Homo sapiens: one gene and its partners. The protein of the gene in region 1 interacts with the protein of each later gene in a pairwise test. Each region holds a gene or a part of one and is shown in the gene's direction. Other genes may lie near its edges.

Region 1 (4,894 bases):
AAGAAGCGGGCCGACCTGGTGGAGAAGGTGCGGCGCGAGGCCGAGCAGCGCGCGCGCGAAGAAAAGGAGCGCGAGCGCGAGCGGGAACGCGAGAAAGAGCGCGAGCGCGAGAAGGAGCGCGAGCTTGAACGCAGCGTGGTGAGTGCGTCACTGCCTGCGCCACCGCCTTCTTTCCCTCTTTCCTTCCTTCCCTCTGCGCTGCGCTGCGCTACGCTACGCTGCGGGGCTGTGGCTGGGTGGGCGGGCGAGTCACGTCGCCACCTGTCGGAGGGGAGGTACCACTGCAGCCCAGGAAATGGAGCCCAAAAGGTTTTCAGCGAGAGCCATCTGCATTCCTGGGTTGGGAAAAGGCATGCTCAGATGGGACTACCTGTGGATCCCAAGAAGGGCAAATATTCGGGAGCGGGGGCCGCAGTTAAGTTCCAGGTGGGCAGAGTTTCAATGAGTTGAGGCATTTTGGCATTCGGCTGTCGAAACAAATGGGCAGCTTAAAACCAGCCACCTCTTTTCATAACTGCCGCTTTGACTCCACTTTTCCCTGTATCCCACAGAAGTTGGCTCAGGAGGGCCGTGCTCCGGTGGAATGCCCATCTCTGGGCCCAGTGCCCCATCGCCCTCCATTTGAACCGGGCAGTGCGGTGGCTACAGTGCCCCCCTACCTGGGTCCTGACACTCCAGCCTTGCGCACTCTCAGTGAATATGCCCGGCCTCATGTCATGTCTCCTGGCAATCGCAACCATCCATTCTACGTGCCCCTGGGGGCAGTGGACCCGGGGCTCCTGGGTTACAATGTCCCGGCCCTGTACAGCAGTGATCCAGCTGCCCGGGAGAGGGAACGGGAAGCCCGTGAACGAGACCTCCGTGACCGCCTCAAGCCTGGCTTTGAGGTGAAGCCTAGTGAGCTGGAACCCCTACATGGGGTCCCTGGGCCGGGCTTGGATCCCTTTCCCCGACATGGGGGCCTGGCTCTGCAGCCTGGCCCACCTGGCCTGCACCCTTTCCCCTTTCATCCGAGCCTGGGGCCCCTGGAGCGAGAACGTCTAGCGCTGGCAGCTGGGCCAGCCCTGCGGCCTGACATGTCCTATGCTGAGCGGCTGGCAGCTGAGAGGCAGCACGCAGAAAGGGTGGCGGCCCTGGGCAATGACCCACTGGCCCGGCTGCAGATGCTCAATGTGACTCCCCATCACCACCAGCACTCCCACATCCACTCGCACCTGCACCTGCACCAGCAAGATGCTATCCATGCAGGTGAGACCCCTCCTTCCTTGCCCTGGCCCTTTGGGGCCACCTTCCCCCTATCATGACTGGGCTCTTTCATTCCTATGGCCAAGACTTTCCTCCCCTGGCCTGGCATGAACCTTTCCTGAGATTGCTGCCCTGAACTTTGCCTCCCTGACGTTCTCTCAGCCTTGTCTTCTCATGGCCTTCCCTGGCCACAAAGCCTGTATGCCCCACAGCCCAGTTCTCTCCATAGTCTAGTATCCTTCCCATGACAGAGGCCCACACGGGAGCTTTTGAAGGACACTTTTCTATTCTCACAGCCCCATTCTCCCAAGCCCTTCACAAACCTGTCTTCTTATTTATTTTTTTGAGACATGGTCTGGCTCTGCCACCCAGGCTGGAGTGTAGTGGCGCAATCACAGCTCACTGCAGCCTCGACTTCCCGGTCTCAAGTGATCCTCCTACCTCAGCCTCTGGAGTAGCTGGGATTACAGGCGTGTGTCACCATACCTGGCTACTTTTTGTATTTTTGGTAGAGACGGGGTTTCGCCATGTTGGCCATGGCTGGTCTCAAATTCCTGAGCTCAAAGCGATCCACCCACCTCGGCCTCCCAAAGTCCTGAGATTACAGGCGTGAGCCACCGTGCCCAACCCACAAACCTATCTTCTGATTTCTCTGGATTCAACTCATTTTTTGCCATTTTCTCCTCTTCTCCCTCTGCGAGGTCTTTCATGTTTTTCCCCATCTCTAGATCTGTAACTTTCTAGAAAGGGCCCTGTAGCTTTGGGTTTGGGTGTCATAGGCGATAATGAGCTTTACTTACTATCCTTTCACCATTTTTTGGTTTTTGAGACGGAGTCTCGCCCTGTCACCAAGCTGGAGTGCAGTGGCGCGATCTCGGCTTACTGCAACCTCCGCCTCTGGGGTTCAAGTGATTCTTCTGCCTCAGCAGGCACTGCCTGCCCGAGTAGCTGGGACTGCAGGCGTGTGCCACCAAGTACAGCTAATTTTTGTATTTTTAGTAGACACGGGGTTTCACCATGTTGGCCAGGATAGTCTTGATCTCTTGACCTTGTGATCCACCCGCCTTGGCCTCCCAAAGTGCTGGAATTACAAGCGTGAGCCACCGCACCCGGCTTCCTTTTTTTCTTTTGCCCAGACTGGAGTGCAGTGGCGCGATCTCGGCTCACTGCAGCTTCCACCTCCCAGGTTCAAGCGATTCTCCTGCCTCAGCCTCCCGAGGAGCTGGGACTATAGGCGTGTGCCACCCTGCCTGGCTAATTTTTTTGTATTTTTTGTAGAAACAGGGTTTCACCATCTTGGCCAGGCTGGTCTTGAACTCCTCACCTCAGGTGAGCTGCCTGCCTCAGCCTCCCAAAGTGCTGAGATTATAGGCTTGAGCCACTGTGCCCGGCCTCTTCTTGTCTTATTTTCTAAACTTCTATCATCTTCCACCTTCTTCACGCAGTCTACCTCTCTCTGTCCTTCCCCTCAGACCCTTCTGATGACTGTAATCTCCTGTCCTGTGTCATCCATATGTCCCTCCTCCAGTAGGGCTCAGCCTGTCCACCCCTGCCAGGCCTCTAGTTCTTCCACTCTGCCTTTGTTCCACTTTGGACCTCCTTGTGTTTGTCTGACTCAGTTCCCAGGCTTGGATCCCTTCACCCAAATGCATGGTTTGCCCCAAACCTGCCTTCTGGTGACACCTTCCTCTTCTCTGCCCTCCAGCCTCTGCCTCGGTGCACCCTCTCATTGACCCCCTGGCCTCAGGGTCTCACCTTACCCGGATCCCCTACCCAGCTGGAACTCTCCCTAACCCCCTGCTTCCTCACCCTCTGCACGAGAACGAAGTTCTTCGTCACCAGCTCTTTGGTAAGGATGGAAGTTGGGGTAGGCAGCTCCAATGAGAAAAGGGCAGAAAGGAGGTATTTGGGTGGGGGGATGGGCCTAGTTGGGCTTGGGGAGGGATGAGGAGGTGCCTAGAGGAGCTGGGCATGGGAATAGGAGAGCTGGAGCTCTGCCCAAGAGAAGCACGAGTTTTAGTGTCAGCCTAAGAGGTTCGAATCCCAATTCCACCCTACCACTGGCAACTTACAGAACTGGGTGTGTTACCTCACTTTTTAGTTCATTACCTTTGTATGTAAAGGAGCTGGCTATCCCCTGGTCCAGAGCAGGTACTTGTTATCCGTTGGTCATATGCCCCTTGCCCTTCCTGCTCACAGCTGCCCCTTACCGGGACCTGCCGGCCTCCCTTTCTGCCCCGATGTCAGCAGCTCATCAGCTGCAGGCCATGCACGCACAGTCAGCTGAGCTGCAGCGCTTGGCGCTGGAACAGCAGCAGTGGCTGCATGCCCATCACCCGCTGCACAGTGTGCCGCTGCCTGCCCAGGAGGACTACTACAGGTACCCTAGGGTGCCCCAGCCCAGGGGACATGGGCTCAGCGAGCCTGGGAGGAGCTGTGGGCATGGTACGGCTGGGCACCGTGCTCCTGGGGGAGGGAACCCCTCCTCTCCCAACCCCTTCGGTAAGAGGGGGCAAGGTCAGAGTTGGTCTCAAGTCTCTTACCTCTCTGCTATGCACTGCCCCTTCCCTAGTCACCTGAAGAAGGAAAGCGACAAGCCACTGTAGAACCTGCGATCAAGAGAGCACCATGGCTCCTACATTGGACCTTGGAGCACCCCCACCCTCCCCCCACCGTGCCCTTGGCCTGCCACCCAGAGCCAAGAGGGTGCTGCTCAGTTGCAGGGCCTCCGCAGCTGGACAGAGAGTGGGGGAGGGAGGGACAGACAGAAGGCCAAGGCCCGATGTGGTGTGCAGAGGTGGGGAGGTGGCGAGGATGGGGACAGAAAGCGCACAGAATCTTGGACCAGGTCTCTCTTCCTTGTCCCCCCTGCTTTTCTCCTCCCCCATGCCCAACCCCTGTGGCCGCCGCCCCTCCCCTGCCCCGTTGGTGTGATTATTTCATCTGTTAGATGTGGCTGTTTTGCGTAGCATCGTGTGCCACCCCTGCCCCTCCCCGATCCCTGTGTGCGCGCCCCCTCTGCAATGTATGCCCCTTGCCCCTTCCCCACACTAATAATTTATATATATAAATATCTATATGACGCTCTTAAAAAAACATCCCAACCAAAACCAACCAAACAAAAACATCCTCACAACTCCCCAGGAACATGGCTGTGACTATTCTTTGCGGGATATGGGGGTGAGGCTGGGTCTCAGTGCAGCGGTGCTTAGAGAGAACTGCAGCCAGGGCCTGGCAGGGAAGCGGGAAGAGACCAGACCTTCTTAAGGAACGGGGTGTGGGGGCTGGGAAGAATTGGAGAGGGGATCCCTGAAGAGCCCAGAGCCTTGACTCAGCTGGAGGCGGTACCATGGGTGCTGGTGCCCCCTCCTGCCCCAAGGCTGGGCAGGACCGCTGCGCGCCAGTGGAGGCCTCGGTCTGGGCTCTGTGGCTTATGCCTGTGAGACGCGGGTGGATTGCTTGAGCCCAGGAGTTGGAAACCAGCTTGGGCAACATAGAGAAACCCCATCTTAAGACAAAATCAGCTGGGGGTTGTGGTGCACTTGTGGTCCCAGCTACTCAGGAGGCTGAGGTGGGAGGATCACTTGGGGGTCGAGGCTACAGTGAGTCATGATCGCACCACTGCACTCTAGCCTGGGTGACAGAGCAA
Region 2 (7,031 bases), on another chromosome or scaffold:
ATGTGTAAGGTAAGTGGCATCATCTTCCTTCCACTAATGGTAGAACTGAAGATCAGAGAGAGTGTCTAACTTGCTTAGGGCTACATAGCCAAGTGGTGAAGCTAAACTCAGTCTAGGCTTACTTAATAGTACACTGACATTAAATGTCTAGAAGTAAATACCTAAAACAAATTGCAAGTCTTCTCTATTTACCATACAAATTATTCAAGTGAACTGCCATTTTTGCCTGGCTTGAAAGATACTTTTCAGAAGAATGGGCTCGTATCCACATAATAGCCTCATAGTCCTCTTCCATATTAAAGATGGTGTCCATTCAGCTGTTTACTCAACAACTATCTGCATAAGCAATTCTCATCACTATTAAAAGAATTTGTTTGTTTACTAAGAAAATTCAGTCTCCTCTTGGAGAATTTAGCCTGGGAAGACAGTGTTGAAAACTACAAAGTTCCTAAGCAAGGACAAATGATACTATTATACAGATTATACAAATTGCCAAGGAAATAGAAAAGCAAGGAGGTGATTAATGTTGGTGCCAGCATATTAGAGGAGACAGAACTCTGTGCTGGTTCTTGAAGGAAGTGATGACCTTGGTTGGATTGATCTAGAAAGGCTGAAGAGGCACCTGAGTCAGAGAGTGGCATAATCAAAAGCTAGAGCTGAAAGCACCTGAGACCAATCCAGGTGGTGATAAGGTCAGATCAGCTGGAACTGGGTAGTGGGAAGAACCCAGAGATGGTGATGATGAGAGATCTGCAGGTCACTGTGAGGTCTCAGAGAGAGGAGCAACATAACCAAGAGCACAAGAAAGATCATGGGGTCTGTATGCAGCATGTAGAGATGCGGGGCCTTGCCTACTCATGGGCCAGCAAAAGCCTTTCTTAGTAGACATGGTAGAAATGGACACAAAGTCAGCAGAGATGGAAGGAAAATAAGTGGAGCATTCAGCACTGATGTTAAAGTTGGAATCCTGGGTTTCGAAAAAGGTAGTGGTACCTTTAACACTGTTTGGGAAACAAGAAAAAAATTAGTCTGAGAGACAAAGTGAATTTAGTTCTCGCTCCAGTAAGTTTCAGACATCAGTAAAATATCTAAATGGATCTCTGGGCTTCCATTCAGCTATTTCCTTGTCAAGCATCCATTGTGTACATAAGCAGCTCTCAGTTATATTAAAAGAATTTAAGTTTATTTGTTTGTTTACTCCACTTTTGCTCAATCCTTCCTTGGGCTTCTTCCTTACAGTGACTTTCTCAAATGAGCGTCTGATCAGATTGTTTCCTGAGCTTAAAAATTCTTCAGAGGCCTCTTATCGCCTGTAGCAACATTTCTCAAGAAGTAGTTCCTAGACAACCTGTATGGGAATCGCCTGGGATACTTGCTAAGAATTTAGATTCCAGGCCCCCTACCCAGACCTACAGAATCAAATCCTTTGGGTGGGCCCAGGAATCTTCATTTTAACAAGAACCCTGAATGATCCTTAGACACAATAAAGCTTGAGATTCACTGACCTTCAGGGTAGAATTCAGGCTTCCATTCCTAAAGAAAGGCTTTCTTGTTTTGGCCCTGCCTACCTCTGTAACCTCATCCTCCACCTACCCAGAACTCCTTGCAGCTCCTTCCCTTTTCAAAAATTTTATGCCTTTGTCACAATAGCCTCTCTTCCTAGAATTCCCACATTCACCTGGAAAAATCCTGCTCATCCTGTAAAGCCTGATTTACTGTCACCTCCTCTGTCAAGTCTTCCCTTCTGCCCTGCCATGCTCACCCATGCCCCCGGGCAGAGTCCATTACTCCTTCCTGCATACACTTGTAGAAGGCACCTGCCATCTTGCTGCAACTTGTCTACCTATCTGTCTCCTCTTCTGGTCTTTGAGCTGCTTGAGGACAGGGACAAAGTCTGCATCATCTTTGCATCCCCAGGCCCTAAAACTGCCTGGTTTCAGAAGGTGATCCATAGGCTGTTTGTTCAGTGGGTGAACTAGAGAGGAGATTGAAGCTGGGAACTGCTAGGAGGAACACCTCTGTTCCTTAGGAGCTGAAGCTAGGGAGCAGGTCAGGGTGTGAGATGGAGGTGCTTGAATGCTGTAAGAGGATTTAGAGAGAGAGAGAAGAGTCCAGGGCTGGTTGGGGGTGGGGGCGGGGGAGAGGGCGAGGAAAGAGAGAGAATTTGGTCTTTTTTTTTTTTAACATTTCCAATGTGGGAAAAAAGGCAAATTAATAAAGAGCAGTCAGAGAAGTTGGAGAAGATTAGTCTCAAAACAGAAAAGAAGATGGTACTGGGCAACTGTACCAAAAAGAACAGAAGAGTTTAGGCAGCTGATGGTTGAGAATGGACCCCCGAAGCTGTCCAATGCACAGACTTGTCTTTTGAAAAAAAAGCGATAGAATGTTAAACCACCCATCTCATCATATATCTAGGACTTTAGCACAAGGATTGTTGCCATAAGAATGAAGCTTTTAGAGTGATTTCTTAGGGAATGGACACACCAATTAACTGTCTCCTGGCCCCACCTTTGATGTTTTCTTCACAGCAATGCACTGACGGATATGAGTGGGATCCTGTGAGACAGCAATGCAAAGGTGAGCCAGCTTCAAAGACTTCCATGTGATCATTGCCTTCTGTCTCCATCTCTTGTGTCACTCTTCCTGTCCTGTCTGTGTTATACCAAAAAGGCATGAGCATTATATTTACATGTTTGATTTTTCCCTCTTAGAAGATTCCTGACTTATTTTATTACTGACCACAGATATTGATGAATGTGACATTGTCCCAGACGCTTGTAAAGGTGGAATGAAGTGTGTCAACCACTATGGAGGATACCTCTGCCTTCCGAAAACAGCCCAGATTATTGTCAATAATGAACAGCCTCAGCAGGAAACACAACCAGCAGAAGGAACCTCAGGGGCAACCACCGGGGTTGTAGCTGCCAGCAGCATGGCAACCAGTGGAGTGTTGCCCGGGGGTGGTTTTGTGGCCAGTGCTGCTGCAGTCGCAGGCCCTGAAATGCAGACTGGCCGAAATAACTTTGTCATCCGGCGGAACCCAGCTGACCCTCAGCGCATTCCCTCCAACCCTTCCCACCGTATCCAGTGTGCAGCAGGCTACGAGCAAAGTGAACACAACGTGTGCCAAGGTAGGAATAACTTATTTTCCTAACCATTGAAAGCTTTTGCCCAAGTGCACCTCGTGGTGAGGATGATGATAATTTATTAAGGACTTCTCGCGTGCCAGACATCATGCTAAGTGCTTTGTCTGCATTATATTTAATCATCACAATATTCCTAAAGGGTAGTTGCTGTAGTTGTCATCATTGCTTTACAAATGGGAAACTGTGGCTTAGAAAGTTCATCAGTGGTTCCCAACCCTAGCTGCCCATATTTAGAGTCACTTGGGAACCTTTAAAACTTCTCGATGGCGAAGCTACACCCCAGCCCAGTTAAATCACAGTCTCTGAGGTGGGTTCCAGGCATCGGCTTTTTTTTCAGTTCCTCATGTGCGGCCAAGTTTGAGAACCAGAGGTCACACAGGTGCTAAGTGCAGAGCTGACCTTCCAACCCAGGAAGGCGGGTGCCAAAGTCACAGCTGGCAAAAGTCACCATCAGGTTATTCACTGGGAATTTGAAATTATGCTGTCAAGCTACTCTACAGATGTACCCCTTTGGTTTCTCAAGTTTCTTTTCATCGAACTTGCCACAGACTTATTTTCCTCATTCAGGAGTAAAGAAATGGGGCTCCTGCTTCTCATTACCTTGGAGGGATTCTCCCCCACTCACGTTTATATCTCTTTTAAGCTCTCATTTGACGACGTTTCACTTATATCACTTGCACCATGGCATCATCTGCCTAGGGTTTTCTGTTTATTTTCACAGAGCATACACATCACTGTGTATTCTAGAAACAGCTGTAGGCTCGTATTAGCAAAGTGATAAGAATCTGGGGCTTTGAAGACATGTAGGATATTAGCTAACTGAACTGTGCTATGAGATTGTTTCCCTTTCTTCTTGGCAAACCATTTCAGAGCAGCCTGGTGTGGAGACTGTGTTACTGAAATGGGGCCATAGGAGCCTCCAGACTCCTTTCTCCCTGCCAGAGGCTGATTAGGTAGATCCCATAGTGCAGAACTCCATGTCACCACCACATACGTGTATGGCACACGTGGGCCAATGGAAAGGGTCCAGGAGTTCTTACTTTCTAACTGGTCATGTGTAAGGAAGAGAGCACCTTCCTCCCTTAACACCAAGGGTTTCAATAGAGACCACTGAGCTGCTACATTAAATGAAAGATGCATTTTCTTGTGCCCTGGGATGCTGCCCCTTATTCACCCGTGTTTAGTTTTATCTTCTGTGTAAAAGATACTCGAGTTTAAATGGCTTAAAAATGAAGCAAGGGGCTGGGCACGGTGGCTCACGCCTGTAATCCCAGCACTTTGGGAAGATGAGGCGGGTGGATCACCTGAGGTCGGGAGTTCAAGACCAGCCTGGCCAACATGGCGAAACCCCATCTCTACTAAAAATACAAAAATTCTCTATGAATGGTGGCACATGCCTGTAGTCTCAAATACTAGAGAGGCTGAAGCAGGAGAATTGCTTGAACCTGGGAGGTGAAGGTTGCAGTGAGCCGAGATCATGCTACTGCACTCCAGCCTGGGCAACAGAGTGAGACTCTGTCTCAAAAAAAAAAAAAAAAAAAATGAAGGAAACTTGTCATGCTCTGACTCTTATTTATTTCATATTTTGTTTGTAAGCTTTAAGTACCCCACATCAAGACCTAACCCATGTTGTGATGGTGTCACTTTTCAGAGGGTGCATCGTATTAGCATCTGTTTCGTGTTACTGTCATGAGTCAGAATTCCAGTATTGATGATGAATGCTTCAGCATCTGCTTGATATTCTGATATTGAATTTAAGGATTATGTCAAGGAGATAAAATGATGAGGTTATTCTTATACATGTATTTGGGTTAATACTGATAAAAAAAATCTTGAGTTTATTTAAGATAGACCAACTTTTAATTGTGTTATTTAGTTATATAACTAGACTGGAAAGTTTGGTAGTATTTTTCCCAAAATCAAAAAATTTTGCTGAAAAATTCTTAAGTATCAACTTTTATATACTGAATTATTTTGAATACTTTAGATGTGTACTTTAATGGTACTTGGGAGAAAAAAAAACCAGATAAATGAATGAGTCATTTCCCAAAGTAGTTTGTAGACCGTCATTGACATTTATGGTTGAATTCAAGAACAATGCCCAGAACTAAATGAAGAGGTCCTAGAATAAAATATATTCAAGACTTACAACATGTATTGGTTACGGTAGAAACTGTACTGTGATTAATGAAAATAAAATCCTATTTAACTTTTCTAGAAAATATTTAGACTACCTAACAAAGTAAGTTACGTTTCACATAGTAAAACATTTATAGTTCTTTCTTCTTTGGGAATTTTTTTTAGTTATAAGCAGACTATTAAGTGCCTTGCTTATGGAATATGCTAAATACATACCTGTTGACTGTGTGCACACAGGTTATTTCCAACCCAAATTGATCTGTGTAATTCAGCCAGTTTCTAAAATTTGGGATTGGTGTCTATACCATTGAAAGCAGGGTTAAAAGTTTTTTGGAAGGCTTAGGGCTTAAGTTGGATTTCTTCCCACCTCACAATTTTGCAAAGTGCCCATAAATGTGGATTTACTTAATTGTTGATAAAAGGGGGTTATTTCATATGATAACAACAGGATAATCTGTCTAGGGAATTTGACTAACATAAGTCGAGTCACACTTGTGCCCATTTCTTATTGAGCTAATCAAACATGCAGTCCAGCTTCTTCTAATTGCCTGCAGATGTATGACATTCTCATTCCAGGCCAGCAGCACAAAATAATATTTTATAACCAATGTGGAAGTATGGGGACCTCTGTTTAGAACAATAATGTGCTCTAAGGACCTATATTATTGACATCATCATGGAGTTTGAAGAGTCTTCTGTTTTAATAAAGATCTCCACTCCCTTTTAAATGTTGCATATTTATGCCCAGTAATCCAGACACATTTCCTATGGTCTACTGGATAGAATAAATGAATCTTACAGATGAGTCTTATTTGCATAAAAATTATTTCTTTTTTCTATGTATATTTTTTAGCAGGTATAGTTTATCATTATATAACCTAAAACTCAGGACATTTTAAATGTAAGAACTGAAATCTGTACTGTGTTTCAGTCTTCAAATCAATTGTGCCTTTGAATGCACTATACCAGTCACAGATGGCTTCTAAATAATTTAAATAATACCACTAGATATTTTAAATGTACACTATTTTATAAATATATCCTTTAAATAGCTGTCCATTTAACTGTTTAATGAAAACATGATATGTTTATTCCCCTTCATGTATTTTTGGGGGTGTTTTCAGTTTTGTACAAAAACAAGGAGTTTGAAATACAACATAACATTCAAAGATCAGGTCACAGTGAGCAGGTTTTTTTCAGGTAATTTTTTGCTAAATGAGGATCATGCTGTGGGAGCCAGTAACGCTGGGAGTTTCCCATGACTGACATTATTCTTGGCATCTATAAAATGAAGATCATTTCAGTGTTACATACCTGGGGCCATGTATAGATAGAGTTTTCGAAATTAATTGTTTCCATTAGATATCATCTGCCTCAAAGACAACAGATACTCATCTACACCAAAAAGAAGTTGAATGAATGGGGAATATATTATAATCTGTTGATGGCTCACTTTAGTTTTCTACACCTTTATTGCATAGTCTCTTTCTCCTTTTTTTTTGAGACAGAGTCTCACGCTGTCACCCAGGCTGGAGTGCAGAGGTGCTATCTTGGCTCACTGCAACTTCCACCTTCTGGGTTTAAGCAATTCTTGTGCCTCAGCCTCCCGAGTAGCTGTGACTACAGGCGTGCACCACCACACCCTGCTAATTTTTGTATTTTTAGTAGAGATGGGGTTTCACCATGTTGGCCAGGCTGGTCTCGAGCTCCTGACCTCAGATGATGTGCCCACCTCAGCCTCCCAAA
Region 3 (7,370 bases), on another chromosome or scaffold:
TATATAGACATGATGAAATATGACAAAAAGGTAAGCTACCTGACTCTGTAATCTGAATGTGATGTATTTTCAAATTCCTAAAAATTCAGTGAAAGCATGAAACACAACCAGTTTACCAAATGGAGATCCCTGTAAATTCTCATGATTAGTCTGCATGATATAATTACCTGCATGTAGGAGAAATTTAGTTAATGATTATTTGAAAGAAATGAATATGAAAAAGCTCACTGGCAAAATGGTATCTTCTAGGTGTCTTGATGACTGAATAAGATATGCGCAATCAGATAATAAGTGTGTTTTGATATAGCAAGCCGACGAAAACAGCAGAGGTGAAAGAGATATTCTAATGTCATGACTCATGTTCACCATCATTTACTAATTGCTCCCTATTTGCCAGGCATAGAGCCATTTGCTTATCATAGACTGATTCATTCATTTAATTTTCACAACAAAGCAAGAGGCAAGATTTGGCTTATTTATGGGTAATAAAATGAGAGCTTCAAGGATTTCATTTTAATGAGTAAATCAATTTCAGAACGTGTATTCTGTACAAACTTGAGAGTGACACTGGAGTGGGTAGAGAACATTAAGGAGAACAAAGACTGAAAATGAGGTATTTCATTTTGGGAGACAGTATAAAAATCGTTGAGGTGGACTCATTGTGCAATGCTTTGAACATGAATTTATTGGTCAGTGACAATAAAAAACTGGTCTTATATTATTCCTTAATTTATCTTCTAATACATATGATTTAGACCATATTCATTTACTCACTTTGTTGAAAAAATGTTTTAATTTTTGGAAATACATTGTGGGGGAAATACAGTAATAACAGCTATAGTGAGCAGAGGGGAGACATTACAGATAACATATATTTCAATTTGAGCTTGAATTTGATGCAGGTAACAGAATCCAACCACCACGGCTTAATCCAATATAGATGAACTTTCCTCCCATAACAGGAAGCCAATACACTGAGGCACACAGACAATTAGGAAGAAATGAGGACATTTGTGTTCCTCATTTCAGCTTCTGGTGGTGATTACCTCTCTGCAGTGCTTCAATTTCTGCTTCCCCCATAACCCCAATTCATAATTAAACTCTGGGAGGATAAGGAATTTGTTGTCTTCTCTATTGTTTGCTACTAATTCTCCAAATTTTGGCCAATACTGAACCACAGCGGATGGATGCTCAATAAACATTTGCTGAATGAATGAATGATACCATCATAGGAGTTGCAGCAATAATAAAAGGCAATTTGAGTGAAAATGTGAAGTTTGCAATCAAATAGTGAAATGACCCACACGTTGATCTTAACTAAAATGGTTAGTTTAAATTAGTTAACTACTTTACAGTCTTCAAAAACTTAGAGATACTTTCAGGTAACAAATATCATAACTTTTATGATCAAGAGCAAACAGTGTGTGTTAGCCTCCCAAATATATACACACATGTACTTATGATGACACTATTGGGTTACTATTTCAGGTAATTTGCTTTAAAATTTAAATTGTGAATTGAAAGAAGTATCATTACTCTCCCTATTTAAATGCTGAACAGCAACAATAATCACTCACCTGATTTCATTTCCCAATTTGAAAATTTCTCAATTGTTTATCAATGGGTAATTCACTTAAAAAATTACAAAAATATTATCTTCTATTTGAATCTCAATAGCAACAAACAATGCCATATTGAAACAGCTGTGACTTAAATAAGAATGCCATTCTCCTAAAATCGACATACTTTGAATTACAAAATAAGACACATACATTTATAAAAAATATTTGGAATTGTTAGATTTTATTTCTAAAGTTAAGTTACACTTCCATATAAAAACGTTTGCTTCAAATTTTGAAAAGTGATTTGAAAAATCAAGAGATATAGCATTTAGTATTTATATGTGATTTCTGTATCAGATAACTCTATTAATGCATAAACAGAAGAAATACAATGAAGGTTTTTCACTGAGCATTGAGTACTGTAATTTGAAAATAATAAACTAATAATGTTCTAGTCTCATAGTGAATTTGAGGATTCAGAATATTCCTTTATATAGGAACTATCGGAAGCAGGAGGCAAAAGATGGCAGCAGTGAGTCGTTCCAAGATCTAACATTATACATGTTCATTTTGCTTTATTTTTCAATATTATCTAATTGTGAATTGAATAATATCTTAAGTTACAAATTATTCTAGAATAATAAAAGTCATAAATGTTTCAATGAAATGGGGCACTGAGCAAATGAAATCAAAGCAGTCCAGGACATTGGACTTTACCACTCTGCTTCCTAAATAACCATATCACACCAGCCCCAGCCCCAACAGTATCTGTAGGGACTGCCTCCAGCTCATTTCCCAGACACACAATTAGTTGATAGAATTTGTCATTGCTCATCTCGATAGTAACTAAAAAACGTTAGAAAATTATTTTCTTTACTTAGATCTATATCAGGCATAAAAGACACATATATTACCTGTGGATAGCATCTACACATCTACCTCCATTTTAATCTAAAGAGTAACTGATGTCCCCTCATCTCCCTTTCCACCTCCCCACTGACTTCTTGAGTTAGAAGATGCAAAGAGAAAACCAAACGATAGCAGACTGACAGAAGCTCAGGTGGGAACTAAGAACATCTCTTGAAATATAATGTGGCCTAATGGATATGGTGCTGCTAATTTGTCTTGTACCACGTACTCAGTGTAATTGAACTGCCTTTCTGAGAACTAAGATAAAAATTACAATTAAACGTGTGATGAAAAAAATGGTCTTGCATGTCTTCCCTCACAGGACTCAGGATATTTTAATATCAAACTGGCTTTAAGACACTTGGAGTTAGCTTGGAGAACTGTTTTTTGCAGGTGAGACAAAGCCTGTGTGTGCATGTCCACACCTGGGGTAGGAGGAATAAAAGCGAACATTTGTACTGTTGTCAATAGTCTGCTTAATCTGCTCCTCCTAGCAATTATTTGTTACCTATTTAACCTCTGTACCGCTTTTCTCCTTCACTCTTACTTCCATTTATATTTCAACTTACTCCCAAGTATAATAAAGAATAGACTTGAATATTCAAATCATTTAAGTTTGTTGGATAATCTCTTTCAACACAAAATAGAAGCACAATGTTACTGAGAATCGTAAGCACCAAATCCCTTTTATTACAATTTCCTGCATTCTGTCATGCTTATTTGTGTTTCAGAAACAAGCTCTGCGGGGGTGGGGGGGGTGGGGGGGGTGGAGGAGATCACAACCTCAGACAGTCTGCGGTGTTCAGGGTCATGCCCGTGGCATAATTAGGAGGAACATTCGACCTGGCCCCTGGGCAGGCTGTGCCCTGCTTGGCTTGGCTTGTGAATGCAGCAGACGTGAGCCCCGTCCTGACTGCTGCTGAATCAGAGGGACAGGGGCGAAGGCCCAGAGGCCTTCCTTGGCACATGTTTTGGGTTTCGTTTTTCAACAAGACTTTGAATACGGTGATTCCACTTGCTGTATTTCACAGCAGGCTACGCATGGGGAAGTCCCGATGGGGTCAAGGAGCAGTCAAGCCAGGAGGTGATATGGAAAACTGATTTGAACGTGAAGAAGGCAATGCGAGATGCACTGGAAGACTGTGGGGAAGGATCAGGGGAGTGGTTCACTTTGAAATAAGGAAGAAAAGGAGGAAGAGAAGGTGGCAGAGATGCAGCAGAAGATACCAAGAGAGGAGGACAAGGTGGCACAAGAAGGGGAGGAGAGAGAACTTAATCTGCTCAAGTTCCAGACTGGGCAAGGGTCTTTCTTGCAGGAAGTTTACAGACATTCCAGTTTCAAATCTGAAGTGATTTTGCCTAAGGAGAAACCCTCACTACCCGCCAAAAACATGCCATCTGAACAGGGAAGGTGATGGCAAGATTGGGCAGGTGCTGTGGAGAAGACCTCTGCTGGACTTCGTGCCTCCTTAGCTCTGGAATCACAGGATCTGCAAGAGCATCTACCTGCGCTCACCAGCACGTTCCGCCAGCCTCCCTCCCCCAACCCACCTGGCCACTCTAGGACCCCTCGCACCCTGGTCCTTTGTTGCAGGCTGACATCTGCCCCACCAGAGTCAACTGTCAGCGCCTTGCACGTGAATTAGGGAAGCGGAGTAACCTGGGGTTCCATCCCTTCCCGGGTCCCTTCCAGCTTTCGCCTAGCTCCGGAGCATCCACCCATCTCAGGTCCAGGGCGTGCGTTCCCAAGGATGCTCGGCCCTCTCCCAACCCGCGGCCTCCTCCCCTCTCTCCCGCGGCTGCCGCTGCTGCCGCGAAAACCAGGAGAAGTGGAACGCGCGCGGCGAAGCGCCGCTCTCGCGGCGGCACTGGGCATGCTCCGCACCCGGGGCCGGTTTCGGCGGCGGGGCGGACGCTCCCTCACTAGCCGGGCGCCCGGGCCGGCCGCCGAGGTTTAGGTGGAGGCTGAGGCTGCCGCGCGCCGCGGGAGGAGCCTCGCCCTCGGCGGCTGAGGCGGCGGCGGCACAGGTGGCGCGGGCCGCGCGCGGGGCGCAGCTCGGGAGCGCTCGGCGCCGGGCGCCGCGGCGGCCCCAGGCTCGCGCCCGCGGCGACAGCCGGCTGAGCGGAGCTGCGGGCGCGGCGGCTGCTCTCTCAGCCCGGCCGGCTGGCGGCGGCGCCCGGAGCCCCGAGGAGCCCGCAGGAGCCCGTGGAGCCCGCGGAGCCGGGCAGGGGGCGCTGCGCTCGCCGAGCTCGGAGGGGCCGCCGGGCCGGGCGCTGCGCACTCGCGTCGGGAGCCGCCTCTCGCCCGCGGCGCTCGCCCCTGCCGCCCGCCAGCATCCCTTGTCCCGCGGCCGCGCTCAGACAACAAAAGCGGAAGATGCTGCAGTTGGGCAAGGTCAGGACCTTGCCCTGAAGCCGGGCGGCGCCGCGCACGCCTCTTCCCGGACTGAGGAGCTGTCGCCGGCGGAGGGTGCATGTTTGCGAGGAAGCCGCCGGGCGCCGCGCCTTTGGGTGAGTTGCGGGGCTGGGCGGCCGGGGCCGGGCGCAGCCTCCTCCCGGCGCCGTCCTCCTCCTCTTGCCGCTGGTGGGGGTGGTCCTGGGCTCCCGGCCGGCAGGCGGCGGCGGCGGCTGCTGCGGGGTTTCTGCCTGCCTCGGGGAGGACCGCGATCGCGCCAGGTCCCCCTCGGAAGCCGCTGTGCCTGGAAGGGGGTCCGGGGTTAGTGCCTTTCTTGGAGCGGTTACCAAGTGGCTGCCCTGCGTGCTCCCCCTCCCTGCCACCCATCTCCCCGGGAGGAAGCGTATTTAGGGCAACACCGACAATGCTGCTCCCCGCCACCCTGAGAACATACTCGGTGCATTCATGACGTCCCTAATATACGGGAGGAGACGGGGTGGGGGTGGGGAGGACTTCCCTCCAGTCTTTTGCCCTTATGTTCAATGTCATTACGATGTTTGGCTAGAACAAAATGGAAAGACTTAGTCATATGCGTCCATGGCCGTGTCTTCAGGCTCCCGCGGCTTGCCAGACCCTGAGCCCCCTTGGTCTATATTTAGCGGCTTCCCAGCAAGCCTTTGCAGCCGGCTTCACAGGTTTCGGGGGCTTCTGCGTGCTGACAATAGACAGCCAGGCTCCAGAAAGCGCCGCCTGAAAGCCAGGTTTGGAAGGCTGTGCGTGTGTATGGGAGATGAGCGATGCAAAATTGGGGTGATCCGTAATTAATGGCTGAAAGCGAAGCTGCTTTTTTCTTTTTTTCCCGACCCTCATCTTATTCTGGTGTGTAGTGTGTTTTCTTCGATTGCCACTCGGCAGGTTGAGCCTCTGCTTTCAGAATTAAGTCACTAGAAAGGTGATGCAGCCTCCCTGGTGTTTGTGGTAGGAAAACAGACTTGGGAATTTTTGGGGTGTGTGTGTGTGTGTCACAAATAACAGTTACTTCCAAAATGCCCAAAGTTGTATTTTGCTGTAACCGTGGGGGTATGAAGGGTGTGGGAGATGAGAGATAGAGGGGCAGGTTGTGTTTCCAAGGTGTTTTTTTTTCTTTTCTTTTCTTGTGTGCCTCATTTGAGCTGATCTGATTCGCCTTAGCTCTGGCAGGTGTTATTAAGATGTATTTTTACTGTGCTCAAGCAAATATGTTGATTTAGAAAACAGAGAATGTTGTCAGCATAGTATTAGGCCTGACAGGTGTAAATTTTCACTTTTAAGAACTATGTGACCAATATTTAAGAGTCTTGGGATTTTCTGCAGTGACTTCCATGAAAACAAGGAGGTGCTGAAACTCCCTAGGAGTTATCTCATTGTGCATACTTCATCAGGGGCTGAAGCTACCGAGGGCAGTCCAGCTGGTCTCTGCTGCTGGTCATTCACCTACATAATGACAAGGCTTCGGGGCTGCACCACTTCTAAAATCCCATGGAGAAGTGTTTGCTGTGACTCATATCAAGTTATGGCGGTGAACCTGTCATTATTTTGGGGATTTCTGCTACGAGACGTGTGATATATAGGGGCGAGTATCCTCAAATACGAACTAGATGCTTTAAACTGCCCTCAAATGTCTTTTATTAGCATATGGTTGCCATACGGAGAATGTTCCTACTGTTGTTGGGGAAAAATGTTAAGTGGCATCATTACTGATCTGTGGGTTCCAAGGGCTCAGGGCTTGAAGGAAGACGATTACATTCGGAGTTAAGTGTTGAAATTTGGGAGGCCTTTGATTACACTAATCACAAGTCAGTGTTGCAGGAGGACTGGCAAGGTCTATACGGCTCAAGTTGATTGAATACTGTGATTAGTCTTTAGCAATATTGCTTTAGTTTCACCTTATTCACATTCAGGGAACTTTCCGAGAGCACTTTGAACACACCGTTATGCCCACTGCATTGTTTTAATATAAAATTTCTTTCAAAAGCAATAGATGAAGTAGCATACATGTCTCGTTTCCTTTTCTTTTTTCCTTTTGAGCCTAGTGTTTCATTCTTAAACATGATTTTTAAAGGACTAGTTGATACTGCTCTGTGCCTGTGTGTGTACCCAGAGCGGCCGATGGGCATGTGAAAAACTACATATACTGTATATGTGGGTTTTATGTTATATTGTGGATTGAAAATGATATTATCTGATTGAATGGCAATTGTGGTAAGTACGTGAGGTTGTTGCCCTAATAAAATTGTCATAGTCTTGCGGAAAGGAGTTATTTAATTTGGTGTACGTTTGTGTAGTTGTATAACCCAGTCATTATAGATGTCACTAATGTTTTCATTGTTCGTAATAAAAGTCATACACTGTCAAATTACAGTATTTCTATCCACTTTACATCTTTCACAATAGAATATAAGCCAATTCTTTCTCCCAGTGAAATTGTTCATCAGAGACAAAAATGAAATTCAAATACTAGTTTG

What was found. The genes of interacting proteins can lie anywhere in the genome.
Region 2: the proteins of ATN1 (region 1) and EFEMP1 interact in binary tests that used the Homo sapiens proteins (3 or more experiments, as listed by UniProt).
Region 3: the proteins of ATN1 (region 1) and CTNND2 interact in a two-hybrid assay, tested with the Homo sapiens proteins (one study listed by BioGRID).

What each region holds. Positions count from the first base shown.
Region 1 is NC_000012.12:6,937,930-6,942,823, forward strand, and holds the end of ATN1 (atrophin-1), read left to right. Parts: coding exon 1-138; intron 139-551; coding exon 552-1,248; intron 1,249-2,950; coding exon 2,951-3,094; intron 3,095-3,444; coding exon 3,445-3,625; intron 3,626-3,817; coding exon 3,818-3,851; 3' UTR 3,852-4,392; downstream 4,393-4,894. UniProt on the Homo sapiens protein: Transcriptional corepressor. Recruits NR2E1 to repress transcription. Promotes vascular smooth cell (VSMC) migration and orientation. Corepressor of MTG8 transcriptional repression.
Region 2 is NC_000002.12:55,913,765-55,920,795, reverse strand, and holds part of EFEMP1 (EGF-containing fibulin-like extracellular matrix protein 1 precursor), read left to right. Parts: intron 1-2,528; coding exon 2,529-2,577; intron 2,578-2,744; coding exon 2,745-3,131; intron 3,132-7,031. UniProt on the Homo sapiens protein: Binds EGFR, the EGF receptor, inducing EGFR autophosphorylation and the activation of downstream signaling pathways. May play a role in cell adhesion and migration. May function as a negative regulator of chondrocyte differentiation.
Region 3 is NC_000005.10:11,901,429-11,908,798, reverse strand, and holds the start of CTNND2 (catenin delta-2), read left to right. Parts: upstream 1-4,352; 5' UTR 4,353-4,945; coding exon 4,946-4,982; intron 4,983-7,370. UniProt on the Homo sapiens protein: Has a critical role in neuronal development, particularly in the formation and/or maintenance of dendritic spines and synapses. Involved in the regulation of Wnt signaling.